Linked DNA regions of Homo sapiens: all the other regions are linked to region 4. Evidence: fine-mapped expression QTL. A gene starts in region 4. Each other region holds a variant in brackets. All regions are shown on one strand. Distances are from middle to middle.

Region 1 (8,468 bases), 120 kb after region 4:
ATAAGCTTTCCTATGATTCTACATTTACCCAAACTTGCACAAACATTCTTTCTTTATCTTCACAACTCTCTTACAGAAGGGGAGAAAATTATCCTTTAAAGATCTAGAAGCTCACAGGGCTTAAGTGACTTTTAAGATCAGGAAAGCCAAGAGTAACAGAGCACAACTAATTTCACCATGGCCAGAGACGAGAAATGGAGAATGTCATAATCCCAGCTACCAGCAAGGTTCCCTAAGGATCTTCTTGTAAAGTTTGTTTCATTTTTATCTTGCCTGCAAATGAAAAATTATCCACACAGCATAGTAATCTGAAAAGAGACACTGAAATAATAGAATATTTTAGTTGTATGCATGCTGACATTTGGTAACTGTTAATTAGCTAAAGCTATAAATAAATGAGATGTCATCAAGGTGTCAGAATGCAAGAAGGATCATTCTTACATGTGTAGTCTTTAGCATAAAAAAAAAACATTATTGGCACCTCAGCCCATCACTACCTTTTAGCAGCTAAAATGAAGCTTGCCTGTAGCCCTGCATAACCTGGGAGCTGGGACAGCCAGGATCCAGTTTGACACGTGGCTCATGGGAACAGAGAGGAGAGGGAGAGGCTGTTTGCTGAGCAGCTACTATATGCCAGGTGCTGGGCACCCTGCAGTGTGCATTATACACATTTTTGACAATCTTGACAATGACCCTGCCACCAAAATCCTGTGTTTCTCGAATTACAGAGCTGAACCTCAGAGAGGAAGGAGGTAGCTAAAGATCACTGTTGCCAGTTTCTCCTCCATAAACTCACCTTGAACTCCACTGATGGGCATATGTTTCTAAGACAGAGTTCTGTTCATCAAACCACTCATTTCATAGCACCATACTCATCAATGAACACCTTCCGATTTTCCGTGGCACTGGCCTGGCATTAATCTGCTATTCAGGGCCTTAGTGCTGATTTCCTGTAAACCTCCACTATTTTGCGCCTACTCCAATTTTTGCATGCTTTTCCTCCCCACTGGGATGTCCTTTCCTCCTCATTTTTGCTTGGTCAAAGTGTTTACACCCTTCAAGGCCAAATTCAAAGACTACCCCCCTCCTTCACCTGTCCCAGTAGCATTTATCTATCCCACAGGTTTTTTTCTCCTTCAAGTGTTGGCCCCAGGGTTCCTTCCTTGGTGAGACCCACCCTGACTCTCCCAGGAAAATTCAGATATTCCTTCCTCTGGGCTCTCACACACTTCACCCCTAGTTCCATTGTGGCACACCATGTAACCTGCCCAGATACAAATGGAAGCAAATGGCAACATGATAGTATCTTGCAATGGTGAGCCTTAACTCTTGCTTTCTTTTTCCACCAGGTACCACAATCTTAATTCTAAGCATATGTTCAGGCAAGCCATCTGTTTACAACACCATTTGGGTCATGTTTTACAGTCAGAACTTAATGAAAAAGACAACAAAATGTGTGAACATCCTACAAAAAAATAGGCATAGCATAGATATTAAAACAGGAAGAAAGCTGCTAAGGATGGTCTGTTAGAGAGCATGAGCTGTAGCATTATGCTGCTATTCCCATGGTATACAAACAGGGATCAAATGCTCAGTCTGACTTGGTTATGGTGGGAGCCCAGAGTCAGCTTAGCTGGAGACATCCCTAGGCCGGGCCAGTCTGATTCTCTTGTGAGCCCCGCAGTGTTCTCCTCCCATGCGATCTCACCTGCACTCGTGCTTCTGATTTTTGCCCTAGAACTCTGATTTTTTTTTTTCCAGTATTAAGACTTCTTCACCTAAATCCAGTTAGGTTTACTACTATTATAAATAAGCTTCACATTAAGGCATCTGCCATTACCTATGAAAAAGATTTGGATTCAAAACAAAGGAATATACACTGTACAACTTTTTTTCTTTCATTCTGATGTCATTACAGATATTATCGGTTTTAAATGTTAAGTTTCGTATGGCAATATATATCTTTAAACATATTTCCTGATTATAGTTCAAATGTTTCTCTATGATATTTTGATATCTTAAGGTATATATTTAAAGTATATACTTCAATAATGAGGAAACAGACAAAAGCAAATCAACATGGATAGCAAAGGACTAAATATGAGACATTACAAGCTCTGAAAAAAAATACTCGCGACTATGAGCAGATCTTGGTCAAGTCATTTAACTTCCCTGAGGCTCATTCTTCCCATGTGTAATATTTCAATAGCAGTTGCTCTGTCAAGCTGTTTGAGATCAAATGAGATGATGTAAAAACACATGGCAAACTGTGAAGCAATGCAAAAAATAAATGGTATTATCATAGGCCAAAAGATCTCAAGTTTCTGATGGTCTCTATAACAAATAAAGTTATGGCCTGCTCCTTTTGCATTCACTTGAGAACTCCCAGTTTTGGTCAATTAGATTGTTATGGACAGAATGGAGCCAAAATTTATGCAAAGAGAATATCCCTAAGTTTTAGCATCCAGAATTGTATAGTTTGTTGTGAGTGGGAAACAACTGCTTGAAGGGGTATACAGAATACCAAATAATGAACTAGTATATTAAAAATCCAGTATTTCAGTAATAAGACTTCTTTATCCAAAGACAGGTTTAACTCTAACTAGGCTTAGGCTACCTCTTGATATTTACTAAAAATAAATAGGGGCAGACTTCTCAAAAACCCTGGTTCCCGGCCTTTCCTCAGTCTCTTCTAGAGAGACTTCCATTCCCTCACCATTGGCTATCACATAGCATAGTAACATTAAAAGGACTATCTCTTATAACAGCTCAAAAGAGTTTTAAAAGCATAAAGAAGCATGATATTTAAGCCTTAGTCTGTATTCACGCTTTGCTCCAAATGCAAACAGTATCTCGCATCTTTCTTTATAAAGTCCTAAAACAGCTACATAATGCTGCAGCACGCATTCTCTGTGGCCAGGCAACCTTTTGCAGCTGTTTTAATAGCCTGCTAAACCAATGAGAAGGCTCTTTCAGCCCCTTAATAGGAAAAGTCATTTCTTGCTTACGGTCAGCACTAACATTGATTCCCAATTGCTCAGCCCAAGGCCTACCTATAGAACACCATTAACCATTCTTCAGACTAGAGTGGTCAGGACACTAAAGTTTAACCATTTCATATCCATGTTCTCTGGGTAACTGTAGCAATCACTTTGTATTTCAGTCCATCTGTGTACATGTCTATCTCCCCCTAGAGATGGTAAGCTCTTAAGAACACTCAGTGAGGACTTTCCATCTTCATATTCTCAGCACCGGCACACAGCCTGGCACAGAATAGATGCTTACAGATTGTTGTGTAAATGAAGAGATTATTTGTATCCAACATACTTCATCAGATTTCATCTTTAGATCTCACTTCCAGCTCAGTACCTGCACAGGTAGACTAGAGAACTCAAATCCAAATGCCTGCTGGGACCAAGGAGGCGGCCTCAATGAAAGAAGACAACCTAGAGTCGTGGGATGCAGAGATCAGGAGATCACCTGCCCATCTAAAGAGAGCAGCTCCTTAGGCCCTCATGATTACTGGCATGTAAGAACACAGGCCAATTGTGGCTAGACCCTCTGATTGTTCAAAAGAATCTAGAAAATGTGATTCTCAGCTGGGCGTGGTAGCTCATGCCTGTAATCCCAGCACTTTGGGAAGCCAAGGCAGGCGGATTACCTGAGGTCAGGAGTCAGAGACCAGCCTGGCCAACATGGTGAAACCCTGTCTCTACTAAAAATACAAAAGTAGCTGCGTGTGGTGGCGTGCGCCTGTAATCCCAGCTAATCAGGACTCTGAGGCAGGAGAATCATTTGAACCTGGGACACGGAGGTTACAATGAGCTGAGATCATGCCATTGCACTCCAGCCTGGGTGACAAGAGTGAAACTCCATCTAAAAAAAAAAAAGATAGAAAATGGGATTCTCACTTGAAGTTTCCCTGCACAGGTCAAACAATACAGACCTGTAGCTTAAATCCTCTTACCGGTCTGCTCTGTGCATCGCTTCTACTAGATATTCAGTGACCGGTTAAGTAGCTAAGAGGTAAGTCAGGACTTACTCAGATAAGTTCCATTCTGGTGGAAAGTGTGACTTGGCCCTGGGACCCCCATAACACATTGTCGCATTTCCAAAGAGTTAGCCCTGATTTTAGAAACAGGGATCCTAGGGTCTTCACATTCCTCTTTTTGTCTGTTGTGGTCTATAAAGGGTTTCAAATTATTGCTCTACAGGCTCTAAGACCTGGGCTCCTGTTCCCTTTAAGACTAGCTTTGGCTTTACAAACTAGCAAGCTGTATTTTAAAGCTGGTCCCTGAAGTTAAGTGTATACTGCATTAGAACATATGTCTTATTGATTTGTGGAGCCTTCATTCCAGTGAATTATCTCTTGCTCATTATCAACCAACGACCTTGTTTGTGCATTTGGCAAAAGCAAGGGGAAGAGGAGGATGTGGACTCATTCTTGGCAAGCAGATGCCTTAAAGGACCCCACCCGGCACCCCCTTGCTCTGAGACATAAAATACCTTTTGTATTAAAGCACAGAGCAGACCTCTTCATCTCGAGACCATTCCCAAGGAATCAGAAGCCATTGATGTGTATCAGGACTTTAAATTGTTTTTTCAATGTGCCTTAAATTGCAATTATCTGCATGAAATTCATTAGCCATTGTATGACCTAATTATCCCATGTTG[G/A]CAGAGATTTCAGAATTTACGAAGCTTCCCTTCCTGAGCAACATAATTTTGCAGGAGCCACACCTCTGTCTCCATGCTCTTGCCAATGCTTCAAGGTGGCAGGCGTGCTGAGTCACAGCAGGATAGTCTTTGAAGCCCAGGGACACACTTGGCCTGGACAGGGGAGGTGATGATGAAGAAAAGAAAGCCTGTTGCCCAATAAACATCAAAGGGTGGGTTGCACCATCCTGCTCTTGCCTACAGATTTGACCCAGGCTTCAGGATCCTCCTTCCCTGGACTTCTGACTCAATGAAGCCCAGCTACTGCTCCAGTGGCCCCATGTGCTCTGAGGAACCCAGAGGTCCCAGTCTACCATCTGTGTTCCGTAATTATCTGAAGATGGGATGAGTCCTCTTAGAATTCCTAATCCCCCATTGTAACAGGAGGGGCTGTGCCCAATGATGGCACAGAATCACAGAATGTGTGGACCTCTAGAACCATGGGGAACACCTGGTCCAACTCATTTCTTTTCTACATGGAAAGACTGAGGGCCAGAGAATTTAAGTTTCTCACCCATCTGGGAAGAGAGAGTGCTATGTCTCAAGTTGAGGCCCAGGACTCCAGGTTTGGTACTTGTCCTCCACCTTCTAGGTGCAACACTTGGAGATCTGTCTCTGGGTAATTCAGGAGGGCACTTCCTGCAGTGAGATTGAGGCATATCTTCCAAATAAGGCTGGTTGGGAGAAGGAGGCTCCTAGAGTCATTTGTTCCTTTGCTGCTGTATTCTACAGATGTCTATGCATGCCTGCTGCAGGTCAGGCTGTGTGTTCCCAGTGATCAGGAAAACAGAGTCCATATTCCCATGGAGTTTACAGATCAGTGGGGGAGACAGTATTAAAATAATTACATAAATGAACACACAATTATCCACTTGTGAAAGGAAGGGAGGAAGGAAGGAGAAGGAAGAAAGGGAACACAAAGTGTTATGAGTATAATATAGAATAATGGGAATCAGGAATGACTCCATCGCACAGATGGAGCAAAAATTGTGATCTGAAGAAAGCTAGCAGCAACTAGACCTAGAGGAGGGAAAGAAAACATCTACACAGAGGCACGGGGGTGGGGTTCATGCTCTGTGGATGCTCAGAGTGAGTGGATTTCCAGGATTGATGCCAACTGATGTGAGGAACAGCGTGAACAACTGAAATAACGTTTCACACTCTGCAAAGAAGCAAGACCAGATTCCACTTAAAGGAACTAGAATCTGAATTTACTAGGAGGCAGTGACAGAAGGAAAAGCACGTGATTTGGAATCAGAAAGATTTTGGTTTCAATTCTAGCTTCATCAATTACAAGCTGTTGACCTGAGCAAGCCACTTCAAGGTTCAATTTCCTCATTCACGACACTACAGTAAAAATACCACATAGGGTTGTTGTCAGGGATTAAACATTTTGTACAGCTCTTGGCACAGAGTAAGTGCTTGAATTCGTTTTCTAGGGCTGCCATGGCAAAATATCACTTACTGGGTGGCTTAAGCAACAGAAATTTATTTTCTCCTGGTTCTGGAGGTTGGAAGGCCAAGATCAAGGTGACAGCAGGGTGGTTTCTGGTGAGCCTCTCTTCCTGGCTTAATAGACAGTGCCCTTCTTGCTGTGGGTCTTTCTCAGTCCACACACACTCCTGGCGTCTCTTCTTCTTCTTATATGGACAGCAGTCATGCTGGATTAGGGCCCACTCTTAGGACCTCACTGCACCTCTATTACATCTTTAAGGCCCTATCCCCAAATACAGTTACACTGGGGGTTAGGGATTCAGCCTGTGAATTTTAAGGCGACATGATCCAGTCGGTAACAGTGCTGAATAGAAGTCATCATTTCTTTCTTCAATTTTTCTCTACCAAATGTAAAAGCAATGATAGAAGAAAATGGAGTGATGCTTTTACAATACTTTAAGAATTAGGATGTTCTCCGAGAGTGCTTCTTAGTGAGTTACTTCTTAGTGAGGTCTACAGTATTTCACTTTACAACCATCCACCCTTAAGTGATAAACCTCACAGGAACCCACTCTGTGGTGAACACTCTCAAAAATAAAGAGGAAAGCGGGAAATTGGAAATGGAAAAACACCTGGGGATGCCTATGTGACCATCTGCTCACTTTAAAAAGTCATCAATGTCAAGAAGAATGTCAAGGATAAGGTAATAATAGAACAGGAGAAAATAGAATTAACTGTTGAGAATTGATTTTATTAACTAAAGCTGTGGCTCAAAAACAAGCTACAAATAACCAGAACTAAAAAGGATGGGAAAAGATAAAGTGGGATCAAAACTCAAATTGTATCAATGAAGAATGGGAGGGGAAAGAAGGAAGAAGGAAAAGTAGCAAAACCTCTAATATCTCTCAGCAGTTATGAAGGAGGGTTAAAAGTTGTCTTTGTCTGGAAAGTTTAAAAATGAGGATTATAGCTTTAAGAATGTTAGTGGAGTGTCTCATAAATTGATCATAAATATTTTTATTTTAAAATTAGAGAGTAACCTCTTAAAAATACGTCTTTAGGCCGGGCGCAGTGGCTCACACCTGTAATCCCAGCACTTTGGGAGGCCGAGGCGGGCAGATTACGAGGTCAGGAGATCAAGACCATCCTGGTCAACATGGTAAAACTCTGTCTCTAATAAAAATACAAAAATTAGCTGGGCGTGGTGGCACATACCTGTAGTCCCAGCTACTCAGGAGGTTGAGGCAGGAGAATCACTTGAACGCGGGAGGTGGAGGTTGAAGTGAGCCAAGATCGCACCACTGCACTCCAGCCTGGGAGACAGAACGAGACTCAGTCTCAAAAAAAAAAAAAAAAAAATCTTTAGACAGAAAACAAAGTAAAACATAGTCATTTATTGAACTATACATCAAAAATCAAAAGAGACGACAGAGGACAAGAAGACATAAAGTGAAGTGACAGCATGGTGGTTATGAAAATGGATATAAGTGGCCTGTCCCAAGCTATGTAAAGATTATAATTTTTAAAAGTTAGTGTTAAGTTGTCCATAAGATCTGCTTCTGCTTCAGTGGCAGAAGGGTAATAAAAGTTTAGAAATGAATTATTGGACCCAAATATGCCAGCTGAATTCAAATCAAAGAACAGCAGGATTAATTCTGGACAGCATAGTGCTTAAAAGTAAAAACTTTACATAAGATTTGCAAGTGTATAAAGCAAAAACTGTAAAAATACATAAGAAATCAAACAAAAACATGCTTGGGTATAAGAATATAATTTACTGTTATCAGGCTATTACAGACCCAAGTATTTAGAAATGAGGAGCTAGAAAAAAATAGATGACACAATAAAAACAGTACATCTACTAGACTTATTTCAAATCTTGTAATGCAAAAATATGGATTACTTTTTCTTTTAAAGTATATGTAGTCGGTCTGTAAGCAAAAAATCATCATATGCTAAATCATAAAGAAAACACTGGTGAGTACCTTATGGCAGAATTTTTACAGCTAATATTTTCAGATCAAAATGCAATGAACTAAACATTCATAATATATGTTAAAGAGAAAAAAACTCAAATATATAGAAACTAAAAATAACATCCTACACGCTACTGTGTGTAAAACACGAGAGCAAGAGAGTGAGGCAATGAAAGCAAGAAGTGAGAATGAACTGAAAACAAATCCCATCTGGAGAAAATAGAAGAAATGAAATAATACCAGCAAAAAATGGAAACGAGAAATAATGGAATGAGAAGGGGAAAAAAAGAAGAAGGCAGTAGAATGCAGGGACTACAAGCCCTATATCTCAGGTCAGGTGAACCT
Region 2 (4,000 bases), 33 kb after region 4:
GCTCACAAGACCTGAGCCAAACTGTTTAATGAAATACAAGCTGATTTCTCCTTCCATATGTAGCACGTGGGATAAGCATATTTGTGGGAGCCAAGCTATGGATTATGTTTCCATACGGAGCAGCCCCAGGTAAGAGCCATCCCCGGAAGCTCTGTGAATGCAGTTGTGGCTGGAGGGCATGTTTTTTGTTCACCCACAAGCAGGGCTGGGTTTTGGCCACACTTTTATTTTGGTGGGCAGCTCTGCCTGGTTCCATTCACACTGGGTTGATCTGTGTCTCCAGATCACCACAGGAGCAAAGGAAGCACCCTGTCCCCCTACCTGTGCACTTAGCTTTGTAGGCAGTGAGGCCATAGCACCAGGAGTGCCCGTTCCGTCCAGGCTCTGGAATGACCATGCACTTGAAGCACAGTTGGTGAGAGCTGCCTGTGGAGATCGGGTATGGCAAGGCTTCCCTGAAATGGCCTTGCTCTAAAAGAGGGCTGTGGGAGGTACAGTGTGGTGGAGAGAAGAGACTGCCTTCTGGTAGCACTGGGTTTTCATCCAGGACTCTTTCGCTGTGTGACCTGAAGCATTCACTCCATCTGATTGAGGTTCAGTCCCTCCACCTGTTAAATGGACATAATAATATCAAGCTTGTGAGTCATTGTAAGAATTAATATATTTAAAGTACCTGGCATCAAGTAGGCACTGAAAAAGAAGGCCCTTGGGGGCTGGTCAATGATGCTGAAATCAATCAACTTTGCATGGTGCTTTTTACAGTCTCTCAGTTCCAGGCACAGTGGCCTGTGAGGCCGGAATTGCTATGACCATCTTCAGTTTACAAATGAGGAAATCGAGGCCCCAGGAAGCTCGATAATTTGCCCCAGGTCAGACAAGTCTAAATTCATACTGGACCATCTGGCAATAAGTCTCATGGTCTTTCTCTTCTGCAATTTTCTTGCCATTTCATTTTTCTCTTGTTAAGGGTTTAGTGGAGTTTTATGTTACAAAAGAAAATGATTGCAATGACATTTCTTTATCTTGGGCCTTAAATGACAGCAATTATGGGAAGGGGCAGCTCTGTCCAGACCCTGACAGTGAGGGTTGTGGGGGCATCAGTAGCAACCCTAAGCCCTTCCTCACCCCCTTACCTCATGCATGTTACATTCCCACTTGGACTGCATACCCCTTGATCCTTCAGGTCAATCCCTCTTCTGTCAACTTCCTGCGGGCAAGGAGGCTAGACAGGGATTTGATTCTCCCTCCGGTGGAATATTTCATGATTCTCCCTCCGGTGGAATATTTCATCAGTATCACTGGATGACCTTGAAAGAGTTAGATTAATTAAGTGAGCCATAGGCTGAGAAACATCTTTGCAAAGTTTGCAGGGAGGGAGCTGGAAGATTTACCCCCTACAGATATGTGAGCTTTTACTGCACCAGTGTTTATAAGCATAAAGATAAAATTATAAAAATTAAAAATAGATATTGGGGTTACAGAGCTTTAGGTGACATTACTTAAAAATCCAAAGGAGAGAGTATCCAGTTGCATAAAATATGAGGAAGTAGAGAGTTCAATAGCCGTGTGAGGGTGTTTACAGCAAAAAAGAGCCAACCTTGAGAGCTTGGTGAAGGCAGTAAGCACAACCTTTTTTCTTTTCATCTCTTTGCAGACTCGAGTACAGTCTTAGGGCAGTGTTGGTGTCTGGACAATCTTCCCGGAGTTCCTTTGTGTTGAGATATACATTCACCATCAGTGGTGCCCACTTGAGGGCGTAGGCAAAGGTGCAGACCCCGTTCTTCTTTCCAGTGTTTGCCAGGG[CTAAT/C]TAATAACTGCATACACTCACCTGTGTCCCTTGAAACCTCAGTATTACCTCTTTTCTACTTGGTGCGATTACAGCTTACAGTTATTGAAAAAACTAATTAAAAATAGTTTATTTCACACACTGAATCCCAGCCCGTAATAGTGTATATAGCTATGAAAGAAAGCCAATTTCCTTCTGTCTGAGCCGGAGGGAATAAAGTACAAAATCTGATGTGTCATTTAGACACTGTTTGGCTTCTGGGCCAGCCCTAGGATGACTGAGAAGAAGAGCAGGTTGTTCTACCCATAGTGTGCTGAGCCTGACTTCCAGGTGCCAGGGTAGGGAGGGCTGCTGGTCTGACCCCCACCAGCACCCAGCCTTTAGGGGTGCCTCAGCCACTTCTGCAGACCAGTCTTCCAGCAAAATATGCCCTTTAGTGCCTATTAAACTGCTGAAGGGTGTTCATGTTTTCATGCCAAGGAGAGCAGACTGGCCCCAAGGGCCTGTGGCAAGCAGAGCTTTGGTGGCTCAAGCAGGAGGAAGAGGCGGTCCAACAGTCAGGGTTCAGCAGCAGTGGAACTGCTCTGGGAAGCTCAGGGAAGAGGCTTCTGGGGCTCTAGCAGAGGATGCAGGAGTTTCTTGCAAAGGCTGAAGGGTTGGACAGAGCACTCTGCACAATAGGGACTTTTCCCCACATTGAGAGTGTCTTGGTTTCTATTTTGGGTGCCCTGAGTGTCCAGGACCACCTCCCACCCTTCCATGTAACTTGAGAAATTAAACAGCAGTCTCTAAACATTATGCCTCGGCGAGGGAAGGGACCAGGAAGATTTTCTGTGATGCCTAGATCCCCTTCTCTTTCCATTGTAGTGTCGCATAGCATGTTCTAGAACGGGGGCTGGCAAACTTTCTCTGTAAAGGACCAGATAGTAAATCCTTTAGGCCTTGTGGGCCTTATAATCTCCCATTGTACAATCTGCCATTGTAGTGTGAAAGCAGCTATAGACAATTTGGAAACAAATAGGAGTGGCTGTGTTCCCATAAATCTTTATTTTTGGACACTGAGATTTGCATTTCATATAATTTTCATATGTCATAAAATATTCTTTTGATTTTTTTTCAACCATTTAAAAATGGAAAAAAATCACTAAAAATCACTCGTAGTTCAAGGGTTGTACAAAGACAGGTGGCAGGTCAGATACGGCCTGCAGGCCATAGTGTGTCTACCCCTGTGCTAGACAACTATGAGCAACAGGTAGATAATAAAGCCTGAGGGGTGCAGGGCCTGCGGGTTGTCAGTGTCCTGGCAGCAGGCAGGTGACATTCTCAAAGGGGTAGCTAAGGAGGGGACTCTTTACAATAGCTGGTGAAGCACCCAGAGACCAGCACCAGTAGGAAGCTGTTGCCACCCTTGGATCTGAAGGGCCAAGGGAAAGGGGCTGTTTCTGAAACCCACTGAGACCCACAGCTCTGAGAGCAGGTGTCCAATAGGAGCTGGGCCACTGCCAAACTACAGCCCAGCCAGGAGGGAGCTGGGGGAATAAATACCTCAATCTCTCTTTCTTCTTGTCTTCATTGGCTGAACCCCCATGGGAGCTTGAGGGCAGGGGAGCCCCCATGACGTGTCCATGTACGTTATATTCCTAGGGGCACAGAGCAAGATGAAAAAAGAGAATGAATCTAGAAGGTCAGGCAGAGAATTACTAGCATGCATTAGAATCATCACTGTTCCATCAATAAATGGTACAACTGAGTTTTTTAAAACTTTGAAAGGTTTGTTTTTTGAGCCTGTGTTTGTATATGTGTATGAATAATTTTTAATGTGCCCATGTTTATGAGCATTAAACAATCTAAGAAAATCTTAAAAATGGATATTTTGTTTGCATTTCAAAGACTTAAATGACCTCACTTCGAATTGCAATGTGCTGTTGCTTTTATGTGACACTCATATTATTAAATGCTTGCCATAAAATGAGAACACTGCCTTTCTTCATGGAAATAGATTATAACTGTCAACGTGGAATAGGATTCACGGAAAATACAAGTTAAATATGGTATTTCTCCTGATGACAGTTGATTAACCTCAGGGAGATCAGCAGACAAATGTCAGTGGGGGCTCTCTCTTTGGGGAAGCTGCACCGAGTCTGAAACTATTGCCAAGGCAGGTCTAGGGTGGGAACAGTCTGCCATGGGGTTGGTAGACCTTGACTTTGAGCA
Region 3 (8,468 bases), 200 kb before region 4:
CATAATTCTTGTGTCCTGTTATGGTTTGAGCCCTCTAAAAGTCATACAGAAACTGAATTCCCAATACCAATAATATTAAGACCTGTGGCCTTTGGGAAGTGATTGAGTCATGAGGGCTTTGTCCTCATGAATGAGATTAGGACCCTTATAAAAGGGCTTGAGGTTGAAGGGAACATCCCCTTGCCTTTCTGCCTTCTGCCATATGAGGACACAGCAACAGGCGCCATCTTGGAAACAGACAGCAGCCCTCACCAGAAACCAATGCCAGCTTCTTGATCTTAAACGTCACAGCCTCCATATTTACAGCCTGCTAATTTTTGTATTTTTAGTAGGGACAGGCTTTCTCCATGTTGGCCAGGCTGGTCTTGAACTCCTGACCTCAAGTGATCCACCCCCATCAAGCCTCCCAAAGTACTGGGATCACAGGCATGAGCCACAGTACCAAGCTCTATGGTGCTTCTTAAACTGTTGCCAGAGATGGGAGAATCTTACACCACACTATACCAAACTCTGATACAAATGAAAGATAGAAAAAAGAAGGGAAAAAAGAAGAATTTACAGATTAATCTCAATTATGACAACCAATGCAAAAATCCTAAATAAAATATCAGCAGAGAGAAAGCATAAGACACTAAAAGAAAGATACACAAAGATAAATAAAGCCCAAGAATGTAAGCATGGCTCAATACTAGAAAATCTGATGCCAAAGAACTCATTTGCCATTGCTCAATCTTCATTTTAGGTTTTTAAAAAAATTAATAAAATAGATACTTCCTTAGCATTACAAAAATTTATAATCCTCCACCCCAAACAATCACAACTTAATGTAAAAAGCCAAAAGCATTCCCATTAAAGTCAGAAATAAGAACTCCTATTATCATACATGAGAAAGACATAAGAGGTAAAAAATTTAGAAAGGAAAAAGCACCTGGTTATAAATTTATATCAAAAATCAAACCTTCATTATTAGTAACCAGTTAGAAAATTTAACAAAAGATGTGTTAGTCCATTCTTGCATTACTATAAAGAAATACCGGAAGCTGGGAAGTTATAAAGAAAAGAGGTTTAATTGTCTCACAGTTCTGCAGGCTGTACAAGAAGCCTGGCACCAGCATCTGCTTGTCTTTTGGGCAGGCCTCAGGGAGCTTACATCATGGCTGATGGTGAAGGGGAGCCAGTGGTGTCACATGGTGAGAGCAGAAGCAAGAGAGAGAGAGAGGGGAGGGGCCACACACTTCTAAACAGCTGGATCTCGCATGAACTCAGAGGAAGAACTCACTCACTCATCGCCAAGGGGATGGTGGGTGCTAAGCCATTCGTGAGGATCTGCCCCCATAATACAATTACCTCTCACCAGGACCCTCCTCCAACACTTAGGTATTACATTTCAACATGAGATTCGGAGGGGACAAACACACAAACCATATCAGAAGAAAAGATGCCTTTTACAATAGAAACAAACTAAATATTTAGGGACAAATCTAATAATCAATGTTAGGGCCCTATGCTAAAAACTTTAAATTCCTATTAAAAGCCAGAAAAAATAATTCAGTCAGTGAAAACCTCCCTTGATTTTCTTTAGAAGAGTACTCAATAGAGCAGTTTCAATTTCTGAATGTAATCTCTAAATTCAGTGTGTTTCCAATCCAATTACCAAGAGAATTTTGTTTGAAATTTGGTAAGTTAAACTAAATTTTATCTGGTAGAATGAACACATAATTGGAATCAGAAAAAAAATTAAAAAATAAGAATAATGAACATGACTATGATACTATCAGGTATCAAAACATTGTCATAACCCACACAATAAAATACAAAAACAAAGACAAAACAAAAACATTGTTTAAAGCTACAGATATTTAATACAATATAATTTTAGGGCAGAAATAAACTAAGAGACCAGTGTAAGAAAATAGAGAGTCCAAAAATGAATTCAAGCACATATGGGAATTGAGTATTTGATTAAAATGGCATCGTTAAATTTATCAGCAAGGATGGGTTATTCCATAAACGGTGTTGAGAAAACTGGTTAGTTATTTGAAGGGGGAAAAATTGGATTTCTTACCTCATTCTTCATGTGCAAATAAATTCCATATGGATCCAAGAGTTAAATATAAAAATGAAACCATTAAAGCTAAATTAAAAGAATGATTACAGAGTAGTTCGCATAACTCTGCAAACAAATTTTAAAACTTGGATAAGAACAAAGGTGAATTTTTACAGCCTTAAGAGTATGATAAAAAACACTAGGAGACATATCCTCCCAGGGGACTGTGGGCCGAAAGAAGGCCTGCCAGGTGAATCATGAAGGCTGAGTTGAGGCCAGGTAGGTAGACAGGTGGGAATGTGTTCCAGCACAAGCTGGCCCCTAAAATGCCCTTCCCCATCATCCTTTGTTAAGCAAGATCCGCTTTCCCAGCTATTACCTGAAGCAGACATGCATGTAGTAAATAGTAGGCACAAATAGTTAGCAAGTACTAATACTGCTAAAAGACAACCTGAAAAGACAGACAAATCGGCTGTTAAAAATGACAAGAGGCCAGGCACAGTGGCTCATGCCTGTAATCCCAGTACTTTGGGAGGCCGAGGCGGGCGGATCACGAGGTCAGGAGATCAAGACCATCCTGGCTAACACAGTACAACACAGTGAAACCCCGTCTCTACTAAAAATACAAAAAAATAGCCAGGTGTGGTGGTGGGTGCCTGTAGTCCCAGCTACTCGGGAGTCTGAGGCAGGAGAATGGCGTGAACCTGGGAGGTGGAGCTGACAGTGAGCTGAGATCACGTCACTGCAGTCCATCCTGGGCAACAGAGCGAGACTCTGTCTCAAAAAAAAAAAAAGACAAGAAATAAAGAGGTTAGAAAAATGACTAATTGCCCACAAATGTCCAGGATACAGGATGAATACCAGGCATAATCAATTAGGAAATTTACAGCTAAAGAGATTGCATTCACAGTAACAAAGTGTATTAACTACTTTGGAATAAACCCAGTGCAGGATGTTTGTGACCCAGGTAGAGAAAGCCGTACTACTTTTGATTCCTAAAGGAGACCAAAATAAATAGAGAATTGCAGTCTCCTGGCAAGGGGGAACAATAGTGTTAAGATACTGATTCTCCTCACATCCATTTATAGGTCACGTGTGGTCCTATTGCCGTGTGTCTGGTTTTGCAGCACTGTTGTACATTTGCAGCACGGTTCCAAGTTGCTTCTATGCAGCTGACCAGACTACCAGGTCCGGTAATTCCAGGTGGAGGTAGCCTTTGAGTAAATCTCTGCTTGTTTAATCCAGTGGTTCTCAAATTTGAGCATGCACCAGAATCACCTGGAGGCTTGTTAAAACTCAGATTACTGAGCCGTATACCCAGAATTTCTGATTCAGTAGGCCTGAGTGGTACCCAATAAGTTGTAGTTCTAACAAGTTCCCAGGTGCTGTTAATGCTGCTGGTTGGCAAACTCGAGTTAGAGAACCACGGGATTAGTCAAATGTCAGTGTAATGCGGAATGGGCAGAGCAGTCTGGACTCCGAGGCTCTTGGGATCCCCTCTAAATCTAGACAAATTTCCAGCTTAATCGCAGTAACTTTCAATAGGAGCCAGGCCTGGCAGGTGACTGTCATTTTTTACTGCCTTCTTTCTATACTTTGTCAGTGGGGAAGTATTGGGAAAGCAAGAAGGCAGCAGAGGCGGCTGTGCGTGTGTGTGTGTGTGTGTGTGTGTGTGTGTATGTGTGTGTGTGGCCAAGCACTTGAGATTTCAAGGCTCATGGGATTTAGACACAAATTCCTGAAACTAAGTGCTAGCCTTTATATCCTCTATGTAGCCCAGTAAATCCTAATCTAAATCTCCAATACCTCTCTTGAAACTTGACAGAATAGTATGCCCGGGAGAATAAATGGCCAAGAATAAGAAACAATTCTGACAGGGGTTAGGGGAGGAGAGGTAGGGAAGATTTATCTGCCTTTCACAAAAACCTGTTTTAAAGCAATAGTGATAAAAACAGCTGAAGTGCAGTCATAAAGAGAAAACTGTATATAAATCATACAAAAAGGACACAGAATTAGATCAAATTATATGAAAGGTGGCTATAACGTGTGAAGAGCTGAACGTCAGTAAGCAATATGGAAGGAAAATTTAATAAATCATGTTGAAATACTGAGGATTGAATTTGAAAAAGGAATTAGATTCACCGAATCTAATTCTGCTCACCGAAATTAAAGATAAATAAAGATGATAAATCATAGGGAAAAAAGGTTACATAGTACACAATTTACCATTTGCCATACTTCTTTGGAAGTGTAGGAGAAGTGAAAGAGAGCGCTTGGGGAGTGACTCCCAGA[C/T]GTCAAAAACGTTAGTATCTTTCTCATTTCATCCCTACAGCAGCCCTGTGAGACAGCCATTACTCTCTACTCTCAGATATGGAAACTGTGGCTTGAAAAATCAAGTTATTTTCTCAAATTCAAATAGGGAGCAATCAGAAGAGCCTCAATCTGTCTGACTCTCATCCTGGGCTGCCCAATGACTGCCAACGAGTCAGGGTGCAGGGGAGGCGTGGCTGCCCAGTTCAGAAGATGAAGCCCCAGTGCCAGTCCAGTCCTAGAGGGGCCTGGGATGGTGGGAAGAGGAACAAGATAGAACCAAGGTTGAGGGCGATGCAGCAACCCAGTGGTATGAACTTGGTGAGCCTAGCAAGGGTGAAAGGCAGTAAATACATTCCAGGGGCCATGGGGGCACCCAGGGAGCTGGCTGAAGCAGAGGGAGGATGAGCTGCTGGGTCCCAGGGAAGGCTGGATATTTGATGGAGAACTGGGGGACACATATGAGCCAGAATTTGTCATCCACCTGACTTGCTCCTTAAACATCCAATCTCATATGGTTTAACTGTGTCCCTACCCAAATCTCATCTTGAATTGTAATTCCCATAATCCCCATGTGTTGTGGGAGGGACCAGGTGGAAATAATTGAATCATGGGGACAGTTTTCCCCCATCCTGTTCTCGTGATAGTGAGTTAGTTCTCATAGATCTGATGGTTTTATAAGGGTTTTTTCCCCCCCTTTTGCCCAGCACTTCTTCTTGCTGCCACCATGTGAAGAAGAATGTGTTTTCTTCACCTTCCACCGTGATTGCAAGTTTCCTGAGGCCTCCCCAGCCCTGTGGAACTGTGAGTCAATTAAATCTCTTTCCTTTATAAATTACCCAGTCTCGGGTATGTCCTTATAGCAGCGGGAGAGTGAACTAATATACAATCCCATCTGCCCAGACATAACCCTGGCACCCCTTTTATGAGGGGCCTGCCGAAGTCATGTGGTGTCACAGAAGAGCAGGTTCACTGGGTCAAGGAAATGGGTTTCACTGTCTGTCTGCCACTTTCTAGGTGTATGGCTTTGATCCAATAATCGAATCCCTGTTAGTTTCCTCAGTTGTACATCAGGATAACAATGTCTACCTCACAGAATTCATGTGGAGATTACATGAGACAAGTCAGGAAAAACACCAAGCTTAATAAATGGTGCAGAGTAGACATTCAATCAATATTTGTTGAATAAGTGAATGTATTTATATATATATATTTCACTGTATATATTTACTCACTAGCTCTGGAGGGGGTTCATCTAGCTAGTTCTGCTTGGAAGACAAGAATTTTTCATCAGTTTTAGCTGAAACATTCCAATTTAGGAAACTGGGTCAAGCCATATCACTGTGCATTAATTATAAGTTGTGATTCCAGCAACCTGTAGAAAGATGAGAAAATGGTCCAGTACCTTCAGTTTTTCACAGCAACAAATGTACCTTTGACAGTTCCATGATCACCACCCCTTCCAATTGCTTGGGCCTTCATTGCTTACAAAGAGCTGCTCACACCCATGATCACATGTAACTCACCTTCAAGGATGATCGCGTTATTCCATTTTGTAGATGAGAAAATTAAGGCTCCAAGAGGTGAAAGAGCTTGCTTAGATCATGCCTGGTGGTTGGTGGCAGAGAAGCTGGAATCTGTGGGATGTGCCTAAATTGATTATCGCTAGAGCATGTGCTTGGTTACTTTGTTAAAGGCATAAAGGATGAATTCAAGGAGGATCCTGCCTGGTGTTACCTGCCTCTGGCTCCCCTGAACCCCTCAGGTAGAGGTTCTGAGGGTCCCATCTATATATTACAGCCTATCCCTGTTCCAGAGCCAATTTGGAAGGAGACAGAGGTGAGAAGCAGCCTCAATCCTGTAGACTTATGGGGCCACAGGAACTATTTCTGTAATATCATTGCATCCTGGGACCTGATAGCCCAGCCAGGATGCTGTCATCTACTTGGAAGCCATGGAGATGTGACCAGGGAACTTGGGTCAAGTCCAGCTCAGGGATGGTGGTGTTTATCTGGAGTGACAAGATGTTACACAGGTGAGGAAAAAAACCTACTATTGATTTTTTTGTGAAGAGACGAAGACTGAGTGGTTGTGGCCGTGTTGGTGACCTTGAGCAGCAGTTGGCTTCTCCATGTAGAACCCGGGAGTAGGAGACTCAGAATCGAATCTCTTCTCCCTCCCCCTCCTGTTTTCAGCTTTGTGAGAAACCTTATCAGCAAACACAATGGCCAGCAACGTTACCAACAAGACAAATCCTTGCTCCATGAACTCCCATGTGTTCATTGGGAATCTCAACACTCTTGTGGTCAAGAAATCTGATGTGGAGGCAATCTTTTCGAAGTATGGCAAAATGGGCTGTGCTGTTCATAAGGGCTTTGCCTTTGTTCAATATTTTAGTGAGAGAAATGCCCGGGCTGCTGGAGCAGGAGAGGATGATAGAATGATTGCTGGCCAGGTTTTAGATATTAACCTGGCTGCAGAGCCAAAAGTGAACCGTGGAAAAGCAGGCGTGAAACGATCTGCAGTGGAGATGTATAGCTCCTCTTTTCACTTGGGCTATGACTATCAAGGTGATTATGATGACACGATGTACAGTTACTCAGCACGTGTGCCTCCTCCTCCTCCTATTGCTTGGGCTGTAGTGCTCTCAAAACGTCAGCGTGTATCAGGAAACACCTCATGAAGGGGCAAAAGTGGCCTCAATTCTAAGAGTGGACAGCAGGGATCTTCCAAGTCTGGAAAGTTGAGAGGAGATGACCTTCAGGCCATTATGAAGGAGTTGACCCAGATAAAACAAAAAGTGGATTCTCTCCTGGAAAACCTGGAAAAAATTGAAAAGGAACAGAGCAAACACGCAGTAGAGATGAGGAATGATAAGTCAGAAGAGGAGCAGAGCAGCAGCTCCGTGAAAAAGATGAGACTAATGTGAAGATGGAGTCTGAGGGGCGTGCAGATGACTGTGCTGAGAAGGGGGACCTACTGGATGATGATGATAATGAGGATGGGGGGATGACCAGCTGGAGTTGATCAAGGATGATGAAAAAGAGGCTGAGGAAGGAGAGGATGACAGAGACAGCACCAATGGCATGGATGACTCTTAAGCACATAGTGGGGTTTAGAAATCTTATTCCATTATTTCTTTACCTAGGCACTTGTCTAAGATCAAATTTTTCACCAGAGCCTCTCACCTAGTATCTTTGGCACATGCTCACTGTCCTTCCCATCCTTGTCCTTCCCATGTTTATTAATTCATATTGCCCTGCGCCTAGTCCCATTTTCACTTCCTTTGGCACTCTTAGTAGTTTTGTTAAGTCTTACCTTGTAATATTTGCTTTTAATTTTGATACCTCTTTATGACTTAATAAAAAGGATGTATGGTTTTTATCAACTGTCTCCAAAATAATCTCTTGTTATGCAGGGAGGACAGTTCTTTTCATTCATACATAAGTTCAGTAGTTGCTTCCCTGACTGCAAAGGCAAGCTTATTTAGTTGAGTAGCTCCTGAAAGCAGCTTTGATTAGAAGTATGTGTGTTACACCCCCACATTAGTGTGCTGTGTGGGGCAGTTCAACACAAATGTAACAATGTATTTTTGTGAATGAGAGTTGGCATGTCAAATGCATCCTCTAGAAAAATAATGAGTGTTATAGTCTTAAGATTTGTTTTCTAAAGTTGATACTGTGTGTTATTTTTGTGAACAGCTTGATGTTTGGGAACTTTTTTTCCTCAAAATAAACAGGTCCTTATTAAACCAGGAATTTGGAGGAAAAAAAAACCCTGTTTTTTAAATTTTTGTATTTTATTATTGTTTACTTCAAACTCTTTGTTTTACAGAGTCCTCCACAAAACCCCCAGAACGTACTAGATATATTTTTCTTGAAGTCATAATCATTATGCATACCAACATAACACTACTCAAATTCTATTTCATTGAGATGCATGTTGCATTGAGGAGTCAAATAACTTGACAGAGAGTGGAGATTGTTTTTCAAAATGGCTTTTACATCCTAATGAAAGTTTGGGAAGTATAGCCTCTCTGCCTTTTCATCAGTGCTTTGTGGTCCAGCTGGCACCCTTTTTGAAGTTTTTGTTGTGTGCTAAATTGTTTTGT
Region 4 (8,468 bases):
CTTTCCTCCCTCCCTCCTTCCCTCCCTCTTTCCCTCCTTTCTTCCCCCTCCCTCCCTCCTTCCTCCTTCCCTCCTTCCCTCCCTTTTCTTCCTTCCTTTTGTTTTTTCTTTCAGCCTGCCATTTTCAGTCACAAACTTTTGCGGAATACCTGTTATGAGGCTTCCACTTTCCATTTATCTCATCTTCCCAAAAACTCTATGAAATCTCTTATTACACTTTTATAGATGATAAAACTGAAGCTCAAGAGAGGTTAAGAAACTATCTCAAGTTTACCTAGATAGTAGGTGAGCTGGAGACAAAATCTTTATATAATGATGCTATATCCAGTGCCCTTTTCTAATAGTTCAATACATCTAAAATGTACCACAGGAGATCTGATTATGATGGATTAAAAAGTATTAATGTGTCAGTGGTCACAGTCTTCTCCCCTACCTCTATCACTAAAGAGAATTCTGATTTTGCCCACAGTTTTCCTTTCCCCTTCCCTCCCCTAAAGACAGGAGAGAGAAAATGCATAGCTCTACACAATGCAGAAAAGTAGAGAGGAGGTAGGAAAGGAGAGATGAAGAAAGATGTGTGTTATGTATTTAGAGAGAATTTGGGGGGCACTGGAGAAAGAGGAGCTTTAAAGCAGCTGAGATAAGAAGGGCTTAGAGAGAGAGGAGGATGTTAGTCTCTAAGAAGTTCAAATGAAGGATTTGATTAATGATACATTTCTCTTGGCTGCTGGACTATGTTTCATTGAATAGGACACTTATTGAGACTGGATCACATGGACCTCATCAATTTATTAGGTTTCATAATCAACCTCCGATCCTGTAAGATGGAAACCGTCCATGTTTCTGGGTTCAAATATTAAATTTAAGTAGAACCCTCCATTTAAATGCTAGAGGACCAAAACCAGGTCAAGTGATTTGTCCAAGTTCACATAGGTGGTTTATATCACTTATCAAATGTCTAAAACCATGTCTTCACATTCCAAACTCAAGGCTGTTTCTTTTACACCACATTGGGTTTTCACACCATTGCCAATGATATTATGAAGTGAAATTTCGGATCTGAGTGGGACACCACTAGAAACAGAGGAAAATGTGGAGGCTGGATAGTTTCTGGATGCTTATTCTATTCTTGTCTTCGTGATCTGGTGCACAGTCTCCCATCTCATCGTCAGTCTCTTTCTATTGCCCAGACCAAAACATTTTTTTAAACTACTTATCCTGGGAGGGTGGTGCCATGAATTCGCGTCATCCCCCAGCCCCTGCAAACTGAATGCCTTGGGTCCATAGATAAATGGTGAATATAATTTAGTATCACTCTGGTGCAGTGAGTAGTGCAGACAAATAACCTTCACTTTTCCCCAGGTGGGGAAGATGGGCTGTGCACAAAGATGTCCACTGTGCGTGTGTGCAACGGGAGAGGGAGTCCAAGTTCCAGCCTCTTCCCAGAGAGGGGGGCATAGGAGGAGACAGCACCTGGCTGAGGTGTTACTGTATCTGTGTCCACTTGGGGAGGGGTGAGTGGCCACAAGTGAGAGGAATACCTCCCAAGGCTTGAATGAGGGCTTCTGGGGCAGGCTTACAGAAATCAGTAGCCAGGAGGGGAAAAGGGCAACCACTTGAATCCTTTGTGTCTGTAAACACCACTAGCCAACTCTGGCTGGAACTGAGTAACTGTAGGATCAGAAAGCTCTAATCTGCATTTTCCTTTTATGCTGTTTCAAATTTTAAAAGTTGTTTTCCAAAAGGGTTATTTCAGAAAGAAATTAAATAAACCTCTAGCCGACCTCAGCTGAACTAAGGGAGGGAAAAGCAGATTTTTACTGAATCTGAGTTTCAGGAAGCTATGGTTTTTCCTTCTAGAATGTGGTCTCTGTGGTAGTATTTCATGAAGAAACAGGAGAAAAAACAGGAAAGAAGAACTCAAAGCAAAAGAAAAGGCAGATCCCACGCAGCTTCCTGTCCTAATTGTTCCATGTGGATTCAACTGTTCTCGGTTTTGGGAGAAATATATACTTGTTCAGGTCTCAAATAATCTGCCCCTGAACTCAAAGGACAATGAGGCCCCCAAACAGTCTTTAGCTATTACCAAACAGGCTTCTTACCCTGGGGACCCCCTTTACTCCTTAAGCTTATGCTCCCTTTTGCCACAAACAATATTGGGACCCAAAGACAGAGCCAGCACTACTTACAAATTTAAAATCACTAGGCAAGGTACAGTGAATCAAACAAACTTCACTCCTACTTTACATTTTCAAATCCGTTTGCCCTTACTAGAATAGGTTTGAACTTGCCTCACAATAAGGTAATAAAGGCAAATGGATTTTAAAAACTTGGGCAGAGAGGAGCTCTGGGAAAATCTAGTTGTCAACACGTATCACCCTGATAGGGCGTTATTTAAAGTATCCATTTATTAGCAAGTTCACTTTTGTTTGCTTGTTTTGTTTTTAAAAAACTTTTTATTAGGTAAAATTTGAACATGCACCAAAAAATAGAATCAGATAATGAATCTTGGGACTAGCTGCAAGTTCACTTTTAAAGCGTTGTTGCCACCCACATCCAGACAGCTGAGGGAGGCTGAGACTGAGATCTGCGTCCCCCCAGGGCCTTTGCTCCGATCACAGGTAGCAAATGTCAGGGAGAAGCTGGCCAGGGAAAAGCCGCCACAGCCCCCGAGAGGGCTCTGTCCCTGGGGAGGTATGCTCCTTAGCAGCTCTGTTCGGTAACTCGGTGGCAGGGAAGGAGGTGGGGTGGTGGGGGTGGGGGTGTTGCTTTCCTTTTGAAATGAGATTCCATGGCCCCGAAACTATGATTCCCTCCCTCACCCTTTTTGTTTGTGTTGTTCTTGTCTTGGGGATGCAAAGTGCTGTTAACGTGAGCTTCCCCAGCCACAGGGACAGGATCTGTCTAGATGGGGCCACCAGAGGCAGCTGCTGTGTTTCGGCTCCACTCCAGCACACAGGGTGACACGGAAGGCCTCCATTTCTGATCCATGTATCCAGTAAGCTTTTGGAAACCCATCCCAGTTTCGTGGGGTTTGGGGGTGTGTGAATGAGTGAGTATGTGTGTGTGTGTGGGGGGGGAGAGAAACAGGGAGGGGTGGTCACGTGACAGTCTTTCCAATCTGGATCCCAATTAAGCCGACACCAGCCAAAAGAAGAAATCAGTGAGTGAAGTGACCACTTGGCCCTGGCCTTGCAAACCACTGCAGAGTCCGAAGCCCCGAGTGCTCCCTGGGAAGAGGAGAGCCGAGGACACTCTTCGCCCCTGCTTGCCACTGGGGGCCGCAGTCACCTTCAGCATAGGGGAGTGGGGAGACGCGAACCCCGCGGGTGGCTCCGGGTGGTGGGCTCCCTCCAGCGCGCAGCTTCCGCTCGCTTTCCCCTCGGCGCTGCAGCCGCGACCTGGGACCGAACGGACACCGCCTTCCCGGGGCTCCGGCGGCGCTCTGACTCCCACTTTCCTCCGCCGCAGCCTCTGGCAGGGCACCCCCTTGGCGCGACGCCGCGCCCCTCCCCGGGACCGCCCCCTCGGTCCCCCAGGGTGCGCTCAGTTGCTGCCCGTGCGCCCCGCCAGCTTGAGCGCCCCGGGCGGGCGGCGGTGGAGAAGCCCAGCCCAGCTCTCCCCAGCCGCGTTCCCGGCCCGCGCTGCTCCCAGCCTGCAAGCCCATGACGTGGCGACGCCGACCGAGACACAAAGACCGAGGCTGAGACCGCCAGGGGTTGAGGGTGAGGCCGCGTCCCGGGGCCGCTGGAGCGCGGGCGTCATGCGAGACTGTCCCGGCTGCGCGCCGCCCCAGAGGAGTCCGAGCGCCCCCTTCAGCCGCGGCGCGCTGGCCCTGGCCGGGACTGCAGCCAGGTGGGCGCCGCGCGTGTGAGCGCCGCGCGTGTGAGCGCAGACCTGGACTCGGGCGGCGGAGGCGAAAGTCGCTCCATCCGCGGGGTGCAACCCTGGGCGCGGAATCCGGGCTGCCGGGTGACAGTGACCAGCTGACTCTGGAGCCTACCGGAGGCGCGGCATCGGAGGCCGTGCGGACCACTGCCGAACAGCCGCTGGAGACCCGCAGAGAAGGGCGGGCCCTGCGCCCGGGGCGCCTCGGAGGTAAGTTCGGAGAGCCCGGGCCGGGCGGAGGGCGGGAGCGCACGAGTGTGTGTGTGTGTGTGTGTGTTCGCGGTGTGCCCGCGGCTCGGTGCACACGCGCGCGGGTTGTAAAGTCAGGAGCTGCGGGAGCGCCTCCCTGCCTCGGCTTGGCCCCGGAGCATTGCGGGCCGCGGAGGTGTGGGGGCCCTTGTCGCTGCGCTCAGGGCAGCGGCGGAAAAGGTGTGTGCGGATGCGGGGCGGGGCCGCACCTGGTGGACAGAGCAGGGATTCGGGAAGAGAAGCCACGGAAGATGATCATGCAGTTTGGGGCAAGTTTTCCTGGTTGAGCATCGCTTCAGGAAACGGTGTTTTGAGGGTTAAATATGTGAGCTATCTGTGCAAAAAGCCTGACACATCAGAGGCGCGAAGTAAGATGGAAAGCTGGACAAGCCCCAGGTGGACCGACCGGTGCATCCAATTCTTAAATTGAGATTTCCAGTCACGTTGATGTGGAATGGGATCGTTGTTCTTCCCGAGGGTTTGATAAGGATGCTCAACTTCACCTGTCAGAAAGCACGGGAGCTGGGCCTGGCCCGCGGGGAGCGTAAGCTCGCTCACACGCGGTCCAACTCAGGCAAATGCAGCATGCCCGACCTGCTCTGCCGCCATCCCTCCGAAAGCGATAATTTCCTTGGGCTACCGAATCCATCAGAGTAGTCATTTGTCCCCTCGCCGGCGGTGCGGGGAGCGTAACATTTGAGTAGCCTAACTCTCACAGCGCGCACTCCAGCATTGTTTTGCTGGAAGATTGTTACTGTGGTAAGCGGCTGGTAGCCTGTGTTAAGCAGCAGGGAAGATAAGGTTGTGTTCAGGTGCGCTTAATTCAGCGGGAATTAAGTTATGTTTGGTGAAGATCTAAGGAGAGGAAAAATCCAGAGTTTCTGCTATAAACAATGTACATCTATCTTAAAGGCTTCTCACCCATTTCTCTTGTGGATGGAGCCATGTGGTTGGGAGGTGGTAGAACCATGCCGCCATCCCTGAGGCTGTGGTTGGAGGCCTCATTGCTGGGCTCTGCAATTTTATGCTCTGTGATATTATGCATGGCATGAAGAGTTGCTAGGAGGAGTGTGGAAGCAGCTTATGTGGCCAGTTATGCATCCTTTATTCCAGCAAACGAGCTGCCACTGCTACCTCTCTCTGATGGAGAGGGACGGTAAATGGCCCTTCCTTGTCATTTCTCAGACACCAGCATTACTGGGCCCGCCCTGCAGGTGGAAGCTAGCTCACTGCTGTGGCCACAGGATGTCTTTTGAATTGACCCTCATTGAGAGCCCGGCGGCAATATTTTGGGTATTGTTGAAATAAGAGAAGTGGATTAGAGAGAGTAGGATGCCTGGAGTTGTACAATACCCTTTAATGGGTTTTCCTCTTGTGTATCAGAGGAGGGTAGAGCAGGAGACGGTGGTGAGTCTGCAGAGAGGGCAAACTTAGAGATTTTCTCAGGCTACTGGAGCCTGGAGGGAAAAACCTTAAATGTCTGATAAATAAAGTCTGATTTTTATTGTGTGTGTCTGAGAGACTTGCATAGATCAGGGAGTATGTGAAAATAAATGTCAGTTGCCAGAGAAAGAATAGATCAAACAGTTTATTTGAATTTCTGATGAGTTTGGTGAGGAAGTGTATAGCACTTAACATTTGGAAGGCAGACAAAAGGTTTTGTTGTTGGTGTTATGTTCCTTTTGAATTTTAGATACATAATGCGATTTTTTTTCTGGCCAATGCTCCAGGCAAAATTGATGTCTTTCCACTTTCTAAAACCCATCATATTTATGAACTCTCTGATACTCTGTCTGAAACAGTCGTGCTCCTGTGAGGTTGAAATATCTCTCCTGCCTCTATTCACAGCAGACGCACAGAACTGATCTGGGAATTTTCTCACTCAGGATTCCCAAAATGAGCCCTTTCTCAAATCTTGACAAACGTGCAGCAGAAGCCATTGTTGCAGTTATGGCTCTGTGCCTGCTGGGCAGGGATTTAAAGGCCAGGAGAAGGCAGGGGAAGGCCCTGCTCTCTGCTCCAGCCAGGTGGTAATATGCATTCTCAAACTAGCTAGGAAAAGGTTCTAGATTCCTCAGTGAATCTATTGCTGAATCCCACTGATTAGCTTTTCCCACTGACAGACATTCAAATCTTTGTTTTTGGAGCTTCCTCTGCAGACTTGGTGTAAATTTCAAAAAAAGAAAAGAAGGCTATGAAGCTTAAGACAGGCAGAGACAGTTGGCTTCCTACCTAGGCATGCTTCAAACTCACTATATGACCTTGGTAAATTATGTAACTTTAATGCATGCTTGTTTTCACATGTGTAAAATGAGAGAGTATCAGACTAGATCATGGATTTGTTTCCCCTCTTTTTCCCCTTCTCTCTCGAAGAGTAGAACCCTTTAAATTAAATCTTTTATAAAAGGTAAGTGGCCGGGAGCTGTGGCCCATGCCTGTAATCCCAGCACTTTAGGAGGCCGAAGCGGGTGGATCACCTGAGGTCGGGAGTTCAAGACCAGCCTGACCAACATGGAGAAACCCTGTCTTTACTAAAAATACAAAAAATTAGCCAGGCATGGCGGTGCATGCCTGTAATCCCAGCTACTCGGGAGGCTGAGGTAGGAGAATCGCTTGAACCTGGGAGGCAGAGGTTGCGGTGAGCCGAGATCATGCCATTGCACTCCAGCCTGGGCAACAAGAACAAAAATCCGTCTCAAAAAAAAAAAAAAAATACGCAAAACAGATTAAGAGCAAGGGAGGGACATAGCAGCCAGTTCACTCTCAGTGTGGTGTCTGAAGAACCCTTTGGAACCCCTACAGGCTTTTCAGAATTCAGTTTGAGAATCACTGGAAGCTTCTCTCTGCAATATGGCATATTCCCTCTCTGAATGTTTCCAATGAAATGTTGTGGTCACCTAGCTCAGTGTTATAAATAGTCATGTACCTGTAACTGATCCTCCTGGATGGCTAGCTAAACCCCTACAATGTCAGCTCTGGGAGGACCATAACTTTTTCAGCCCTGGACCTTCTGAGTCTCACACAGTGCCTGGCATGTAAGTAGGTGCTTAGTGAATGCTTATTGAATGGATTAAGAAATGAAGAGGGAGTAAAGTTATTCTGGCAGACCAAAGACTGGTGGATGATACACTATGGTGGAAATCTTAGGAGAGCAGGGACTTTGATTTATTTGTTGCTATATCTCTAGTGCCTGGCACAGACAGATTTTGGCTTATTGTAGGAAGTCCTTTAAAATAATTAAAGTTAATACTGGGAATGGATTGCCCCAAGAGGGGATAGAAGCATATATATGGTGGCTATTAATTTTGTTCTTAAAGATTCTGGCTGTCTCTGCTTCTGGGCACATGGTAAGATTGCATTTTCCTGTTAATTTGAAATCAGGTATGGCCATGTGACTTGTTTGGCCAGAAAGTACATGAACCTTTAAGAGTCAGCAGGTGCCTCACCATGTTCTCCCTTTTCCTCTGTTTCAGTGGTAGTTAAGTCTCCAGAAAGTGGCTGCTCCTCCCTCAGCCTGGGTCTGGGATTGAGGATGATGTGGAGCAGAGCTTCTTGCTGACGCATAATGGACATGTAGCATTGATAATAAACAAACTGAAATCTGGGGATTATTTGTTGCTGCAGTGTAACCTAGCATACGTGACTGATGCAACATGTAAAGAACTTAGGATCATACTGGCTGCTGATCAGGATAGCAGTGTTATCCAGGAAGGCCAGTCCTTGCTGAGACAGGGCTTCATGGGGATCAGGACCTGTGTATGAGCACCACATCGTGGCATGCGGCTGTCATTTTGCCTGGTTGGAGAGCTTATTTGGTAATATACTCAGGTTAGTCTTTTAGAGAAGGAACATGAAAACCGAAAGTCTGATGCACTGGCTATAATATGCTGATTTCATAGTTTAGAGAGAAGCAAGTGAAGCTGATAAATGTGTTCAGTGATTGGACAGAATTGTCCATTAAAAGCCGGATAATAAACAGAAGGTGCTTTGTGAGCCAAGAATGAAAGCCAGGGGAGTTGGTGGAATGAATTGAATGACTGTGTCATAGGACTGTGACATGCCAATGTATCCTTCATTGTCCAAGTTAGAGAACTACCTGCTCAATAGACTCCATGCATACGCATGCATGTCATTTAATATTATCCTTAAAGCATGATTTATCGAACACAACTGTATGATTTTTCTGATGCTCTGAGCATTGTTCCATGCCCTTAGCCAATGGGAGCTCACATGACAGTTTTCTACTGACGTGGCCTGTGAGAACTTCATACTGCAAAAACTCTCAGCCAGTGAGCCCTCCACTGTCCCCAACTTCAGTGTCTTACTCAATA

Direction of the effects. Positions count from the first base shown, and alleles are read on the strand shown. Sizes are in standard deviations (SD) of each study's normalised expression. Not every link is listed here.
With allele C in place of CTAAT in region 2, the expression in pancreas of the gene that starts at base 3,894 in region 4 is higher (moderate effect, 0.71 SD a copy in GTEx).

The links. PIP is the estimated chance that this variant, and not a neighbour inherited with it, causes the effect. A credible set is the group of variants that fine-mapping cannot tell apart.
Region 1: its variant is the best candidate, but not a certain one, in a credible set for the expression of MINAR1 in adrenal gland (GTEx, PIP 0.74).
Region 2: its variant is the best candidate, but not a certain one, in a credible set for the expression of MINAR1 in pancreas (GTEx, PIP 0.71).
Region 3: its variant is the best candidate, but not a certain one, in a credible set for the expression of MINAR1 in tibial artery (GTEx, PIP 0.54).

The regions. Positions count from the first base shown.
Region 1 is chr15:79,544,562-79,553,029 of GRCh38, forward strand. No RefSeq gene overlaps it. Among named protein-coding and RNA genes, the nearest start is that of MINAR1, 120 kb to the left of the region's middle. The variant G/A (reference allele first, on the strand shown) is at 4,675.
Region 2 is chr15:79,463,632-79,467,631 of GRCh38, forward strand. All of the region lies in intron 3 of MINAR1 (membrane integral NOTCH2 associated receptor 1), which reads left to right. LOC105370918 (a long non-coding RNA gene) reads right to left here. Exons shown (of 4, transcript XR_007064729.1): 3 at 1,134-3,426; 4 at 207-608. Among named protein-coding and RNA genes, the nearest start is that of MINAR1, 33 kb to the left of the region's middle. RefSeq lists an enhancer at 200-1,399. The variant CTAAT/C (reference allele first, on the strand shown) is at 1,804.
Region 3 is chr15:79,229,751-79,238,218 of GRCh38, forward strand. The region is part of intron 1 of ANKRD34C-AS1 (ANKRD34C antisense RNA 1); the gene reads right to left. It also overlaps the pseudogene HNRNPCP3. Among named protein-coding and RNA genes, the nearest start is that of MIR184, 24 kb to the left of the region's middle. The variant C/T (reference allele first, on the strand shown) is at 4,340.
Region 4 is chr15:79,428,443-79,436,910 of GRCh38, forward strand. MINAR1 (membrane integral NOTCH2 associated receptor 1) reads left to right here and starts at 3,894. Exons shown (of 4, transcript NM_015206.3): 1 at 3,894-4,098.